2 linked regions of the Homo sapiens genome follow. The protein of the gene in region 1 interacts with the protein of each later gene in a pairwise test. Each region holds a gene or a part of one and is shown on either strand. Other genes may lie near its edges.

Region 1 (3,654 bases):
GGAATCCACTCCTAAATGGTGTCTTCTTACAGTTCATCATGGAAAAACAAGATAATTACAAATTAATCATAGATGTTGGTCATGCCTTTACAGAGGGGGTTTAGAAGCAAATTGAGAATTCCCATAAGAGGGTCTGTCTCTGTGTTCTTAAGACTATATCCATGCGGCCCATTCAGTAAGTTGTATCTGTTGGTTGGATTTTAAAATAGATGATTTAATCAGTGCATTTAATATCCTAATATGGCATCAAAACTTGAACATTGATATGGCCTGAAATCTGTTGAAAATGATCATATTGAGTAAAGAAAGTCTCTACCCACCGGTATTAATAACAGGGTGATCTGTTTAGAAATTACATTTTCTCTGATACATCAATGAGTTTTGCAAAGGAGAGAAAATTGATGGTACCTGTAGTCAAGTCCAGTTCCAATACTGCCACAGAATTTTTCTTAAAAGTTCTATTGTAAATAATAGGCCACAGAATATTCCTTCACTTTCTGGGATGCAAAATGGATTCGTAAATGCTGTACCACAGGAGTGAGTATTTACAAAAAATATGCCAACTGGCCCACTTACAAAGCTATTTATAGAAGTCCTACTTTTCAAACTATTTTTTTTTTAACCTGTAAAGGGAAAGTTAATTCTTGTTGGTTTTATGAGTAGTGAACAGTGGCTATTAGAAATCAGGTAGAAGTAAAAACAGCAGTTTTCCAACTTCTTCTTCTTTTTCTTGAGACCAAGTTTCGCTTTTGTTTCCCAGGCTGGAGTGCAATGGCGTGATCTCAGCTCACCACAACCTCTGCCTCCCGGGTTCAAGCGATTCTCCTGCCTCAGCCTCCCGAGTAGCTGGGATTACAGGCATGTGCCACCATGCCTGGCTCATTTTGTATTTTTAGTGAGATGGGGTTTCTCCATGTTGGTCAGGCTGGTCTCAAACTCCTGACCTCAGGTGATAGTCCACCTTGGCATCCCAAATTGCTGGGATTACAGGGGTGAGCCCCTGCCCCCGGCCTCCAATTCCTTGATCATAGAATCTCTTTCAAAAAAAATGAGGACCCCAGACAGTTTTTGTTTTTGTGGATTATAACAGTCAATAAGTCATCCTGTTAGACATTAAAACAGAAATTTAAAACATATTTAACAATCTATTTAAAAGTAATGGTAACAGGCCAATTACATGTTACATACAAAAATGTATGTAATATATTTATTGTTTTTATATTTTATTTTTATTAAATATATATATTTTTAGAATAATTTATACTTTTCTATAAATATAAAATACAAATAAGTTATATTTATATAATTTAGATGTAAATAAAAACAATTGATATTTTTATATAAATATATAAATGTGTACACTTATGGGGCACAGTGTGATGCTTTGCTGTATGTTTGCATTGTGGAATAATTAAACTAATATCTATCACCCGCTATTTTTCCTTTGCGGTGGGAACATTTAAAATCTCTTTTAGCTATTTTTGTTTTTTATTTCCATAGGTTATTGGGGAACAGGTGGTGTTTGATTCCATGAGTAAGTTTTTTAGTGGTGATTTGTGAGATTCTGGTGCACCCATCACCCAAGCAGTATACACTGCACGCAAGACATTTAAAATCTCTATTGGCGGGCCGGGTGCGGTGGCTCATGCCTATAATCCCAGCACTTTGGGAGGCTGAGGCGGGTGGATTGCCTGAGCTCAGGAGTTTGAGACCAGTCTGGGCAATACAGTGGAACCCCATCTCTACTAAAATACAAAAAATTAGCTGGGTGTGGCAGTGTGCGCCTGTAGTCCCAGCTACTTGGGAGGCTGAGGCAGGAGAATGGTGTGAACCTGGGAGGTGGAGGTTGCAGTCAGCCAAGATTGCGCCACTGCACTCAAGCCTGGGCAACAGGGCGAGACTCCGTCTCAAAAAAACCAAAAAAACAAAAAAACAAAAACAAAAATAAAAACCTCTTTTAGCTATTTTGAAATATGTAATACACTATTAACTATCGCCACCACGCTGTGCAGTAGGTCACTGAAACGGATTCCTCCTGTCGAACAGAAACTTGGTACCCTTTGGCCATGTGCTGTATGTTTTTTAAAAGAAAAATGATTGTCATTTCCAAAATAACAAAAACCTAGGGAGAAGAGTGGCTGAGTTTTAGGGTTTTGTCAGTCTCATCCATAAAGGGACGGATGGCGGCTGGCTCCTTCCTCTGCTTCTTCACACTGGTCTCTTGCGACGTGTCGTTCTGGTAAGAGTCATGTGAGGCACATCCACTGGCCTCTCATGGATGTGCAATTGGAAACGTGAAATCGCCGGCCCCCTGAGAGCGTTTTGGGGAGTGTCCCCCCCAAACCCCCCTCCCCCCGCACTGGGGATGCTGCACCAGTCTTGAAGAATGAGGCAGTGAGAGGCTGGTTTACAGCAACCTTTATTCGTGGCCTTGTGTGCTCGGAAGCGCTGCAAGGGAGGAGGAAGGAGGAAGGAGGGTACTCACTGCAGAAGGTCAGCTCTGCTGTGGCTGTTACGTGGGTTCAGGTGGAACCCACCTACTGTGTGGACGGTTCTTTACCTGGGAATCCCATGGAATTCTGACAGCAGGAGACGTGGGAGGGAGCTTCTTGTTTCTCCTTCCAGGAGTCACTTGGTTAGGGGTTTGGGAATTTTGGCTCTTAGTACAAAACTTCACTCCAGGTACTAGACCTGTTTCAGCCAAATGATGATCATCATAATAGAATAGAAACCTTTGTTCACCTAAATAATAACAATAATATTAATAATAATAGAATATAAACCTTTGTTCATGGTACTGGGGCGTCTTTCAGCCCAATAATAATAACAACAATAGGAATAATGATAATAATGATAAAATATAAACCTTTGCTTCACGTCCTGGAACGTCTTTCAGCCAAATAATAATAATAATATTAATGATAATAGAATATAAACCTTTGTTCAGGGTACTGTGACTTCTTTCAGCCCAGTAATAATAATAATAATAGTAATAATGATAATAATGATAGAATATAAACCTTTGCTTCATCTCCTGGAACGTCTTTCAGCCAAATAATAACAATAATAATAATAATGACAATAGAATATAAACCTTTGTTCAGGGTACTGTGACCTCTTTCAGCCCAGTAATAATAATAACAGTAGTAATAATGATAATAATGATAGAATATAAACCTTTGCTCCAGGTCCTGGGAGCTCTTTCAGCCAAATAAGAATAATAATAGAATATAAACCTTTGTTCACAGTACCAGGACCTCTTTCAGACCAACAATAATGACAGTAATAATAATTATAATGATAATAGAATATAAACTTTTCTTCTAGGTACTGGGACCTCTTTCAACCAAATAATAATAGTGGAATATAAAACTTGGCTCTAGGTACCAGAACCTTTTTTCAGCCAAATAGTAATAATAAGAATAGTATTAATAGAAAACAGACCTTTGGTCCAGGTACTGGGACACCTGTGAGCCAAATAATAATAATAATGATAATAATAGAACATAAACCTTTGACTGAAGTGCCAGAACCTTTTTCAGCTAAATAATAATAATAAAATATAAACTTTTGTTCCAGGTACCCGGACTTCTTTCAGCCTAATAATAATCATAGAATATAAACCTTTACTACAGGTCCTGGCACCTTTCTCAG
Region 2 (3,654 bases), on another chromosome or scaffold:
TCTCCCCAGATGTCAAGCAGTTTCAAAGCTCTTGCATCCATACCCAGGCCCTTCCCATGCCACTCTCAGGAAGAATTCATTCCTCTTCCCAGCAGTCCCTTCCAGCATTTTGTCCATACCCGTATCACAGCACTGGGTGGTGAGGACAATGTGTCCTGCAACCCTGGTCTCCTCAGGGGGAGACCCTGGTGGATTGGCCTTTGTTTCTGGGCCTCCGGACCTAGGTCTGGGAGACGCAGGTGTTCAAGGGAAGGTCTAATGAAGTAAAAGCACAAGTGAACTCTCCTCTTACCCAAAGGGCCTGACTGTGCCCTTTCTGAGGGCCCGGACAGCCCCACCCTCCATTTTCAATCATTCTATCCTCCTCGGGAAAGCAAACATCCAATCCCAATTGGCTGAGTACAGCACTAGAGGACCCTGGGACAAACACAGGTGGCCTGGAAAGTTCCAGACCTGGAAATCCTGCTCTAGGAGCCTCTCCCTGTCCTCCAAGTCATAGGGATTTTAGCTTTTCAGGCACAAATGCAACAAACTCTGTGAGCTTCACTCAGAAACAGCTATGTAGACTAATCCCTCCTCCTTGTCCTTCTGTTTGCATGGTGGCCTTTCCAAGTCCTGCCTGTAGCTCCCTCCTGAGCCACTGTCCCTGCACTGTGTTTGCCACTTCATGCACCCTCTCCCTCCTGGCCTGCCCAATGCCCACACCTCCTCTAGGAAGCTTGCCTAGCCTAAAGTCAGCCCTATGAGATAGGCTTGCTCGGGTCCCTCATGCATCATCAGCATTTCATGTATTTCTTTCTCTAAACAGGATCTTAGACCCTTTTCATATCCCTATCACGTAGAGCATTCCTAGATCCTAGATGATATTCCCTTTCATGGGGAGACCACATTCTGTGGATCCATTTCCCAGTTGATAGACATTTGGGTTGTTTCCACTTTCCAGCTTTCAGGCTGTTATGAATAATGCTGCCATGAACATCCACGTGTAATGTGTTTTTGCATGGATGTATGGTTTTGTTTTTTTGGTTTTTGTTTGTTTGTTTGTTTTGTTTTTTTGAGACATAGTCTTGCTCTGTCACCCAGGCTGGAGTGCAGTGGCACGATCGCAGCTCACTGCAACCTCCACCTTCCGGGTTCAAGCGATTCTCCTGCATCAGCCTCCCAAGTAGTTGGGATTACAGGTGTGCGCCACCACACCCGGCTAATTTTTGTATTTTTAGTAGAGACAGAGTTTCGCCATGTTGGTCAGGCTGATCTTGAACTCCTGACCTCAGGGGATCCACCTGCCTCAGCCTCCCAAAGTGCTGGGATTACAGGCGTGAGCCACTGCACCTGGCAACGTGGACATATGTTTTTACACCTCTTGGGTATATACGTAGGAGGGGAGTGACTGGGTCATATGGTAACTCTGTGCTCTGTGTTTAACCATTTGAGGAACTGCTTGACCTGTCTACACAGCAGCTTCCCAGCTGCTGCTTGTATGAGGCTTGCCTTCAGTGTGACAGGACTAGGAAGAAAGTCTGTGTGAAATGCCTGTTTTCAAAGAAGTAGACTATTGTGAAGCACTCTTTAAACTGCATCTTCGCTGTTGAGTCTTTGATGATTCCAAAGGGACTTGTGGATTCTTCAAAGTCTCAAGGGCACTGCTATGAATGCTGGTCGTCTTTGTACCAGCAGACACAATTCTGGCTAGGAGGCTGTGGCAACAGAGATGGTGCTGTTACAAATCCTTAAGTTCAAGGTGCAAGGGAGAGACAGGTGTGAGTTAATGCCTGTGAGGAAGGCTCCTGGAAGACAGAGGGCAGGCTCTGAAGCCTGGTCTCCAGGGCAGGCAGGTGAGAGCGCAAGGAGGCTGGAAGGGGGGCATGGAGTTGGGGTCCATGTGAGTCTGGGATGAAGCAGGATCTGCCCCCCTAGGCTTCCTGTGCCCTCCGCAATTCTCCCACTCCACTCGTTCACAAACGTACAACAGGCGCCCATGCCACAGCTCTGTCACATGGGTCACTGAGCAGCAGTGACCTCTCGTAGAAGGATGGAGAGACTGCTCTCTGGAGAAGAGGGCAGGCACTGCAGCAGTCAGGCCACACTGCTTGTCCATCCAGAGGAACCATTTCTAGAGCATCTACGAGGCTCACCTGCTGGACTCCTGCCACCTTGATGGCAAGCACCTACAACCACATGCTCTGAATATGCCCAGCAGAGAAAATGCCAACATCGGCCAGGCATGGTGGCTCATACCTGTAATCCCAGCGCTTTGGGAGACTGAGGCGGGCAGATCACCTGAGGTCAGGAGTTTGAGACCAGCTTGGCCAACATGGTAAAACCCCACCTCTATTAAAAATATTAAAATGACCCAGGTGTGGTGGCACACACCTGTAATCCCAGCTACTTGGGAGGCTGAGGCAGGAGAATCGCTTGAACCTGGGAGGTGGAGGCTGCAGTGAGCCGAGATCACACCGCTGCACTCCAGCCTGGGCGATACAGCAAGATTCCATCTCAAAAAAAAAAAAAGAAAAGAAAATGCCAACATCCCTGGCATCTGTCACTCCTGAACTGAGAGAGCAACACAGGAGAACAACACTAGATTGGAAGGTGAGAAGGGGGCTCATTCAAGACTACTGGGAAATAACAACTCCCAGGGCCTCAGGACCCAAACACCCTGCTGGTCTGTTCAGAACAAGAGAATCACTCCAGGAACCACACCCTTGATCCTTGTTCAATCTGCTTCACAGCCAGCTAGAGGCAGAAGTGACCTAGAGAGTTCCAAGCTGCAGGGAGAACACAGGTCCATTTTCAAAGTCAACCCATGGGAATGATTTCATGGGTGTCGCTGACCAGGGACCAGCTCTGGTGGCACTCCCCAGACAGGGTCAGAGCCTGAACGATGAGAGCTGGCCATGCCCTCCTGGCTGGAGCTGACCAGGGCCTACCTCGGAGCTGACTGAATGTGGTCATGAACTTGCTGGTGAGGGACTTAAGCTCGTTGTTAGCCAGGGTGATGAGGTGGATCTGGCCAGAGACATTCCGCAGGACCTTGTAGATGCCAATGGGAAAGGAGACCAGCTTGCACTCGGCCAGGTCTGCAGCCAAAGAACAAAAACAAACCAGAGTTATCAGCCACAGCTGCCCGAGAACTTGTCCCAGACTCACACAGACCCCACCTCCATGCCCCCTTCCAGCCTCCTTGCCCTCCCACCTGTCTCCCCAGGACCAGGCTTCAGACCCTGCCCTCCCTCTTCCAGGAGCCCTCCTCATAGGCATTAACTCACACCTGTCCCTCCCTTGCACCCTGAACCTAAGGATTTGTGTTAGCACCATCTCTGTTACCACAGCCTACTAGCCAGAATCGTGTCTGCCGGCACAAAGATGACTGGCATTCATAGCAGTGCCTTTGAGATCCTGCAGAATCCACAAGTCCCTTTAGAATCATCAAAGACTCGACAGCGCAGATGCAGTCTAAAGACTGCTTTACAATAGTCTACTTCTTTGAAAACAGGCAATTCACACAGACTTTATGGTTTGATCTTCTTCCTAGTCCTGTCACGCTGAAGGCAAGCCTCGTACAAGCAGCAGTTGGGAAGCCACTGTGCAGAACAGTCAGGCACTTCCTCAAATGGTTAAACACAGAGCACAGAGTTACCATATGACCCAGTC

The links. Proteins that work in one complex are often made in the same cells at the same time.
Region 2: the proteins of ZBED1 (region 1) and LRRC20 interact in binary tests that used the Homo sapiens proteins (3 or more experiments, as listed by UniProt).

What each region holds. Positions count from the first base shown.
Region 1 is NC_000023.11:2,494,472-2,498,125, reverse strand, and holds part of ZBED1 (E3 SUMO-protein ligase ZBED1), read left to right. Parts: intron 1-3,654.
Region 2 is NC_000010.11:70,337,623-70,341,276, forward strand, and holds part of LRRC20 (leucine-rich repeat-containing protein 20), read right to left. Parts: intron 3,081-3,654; coding exon 2,931-3,080; intron 1-2,930.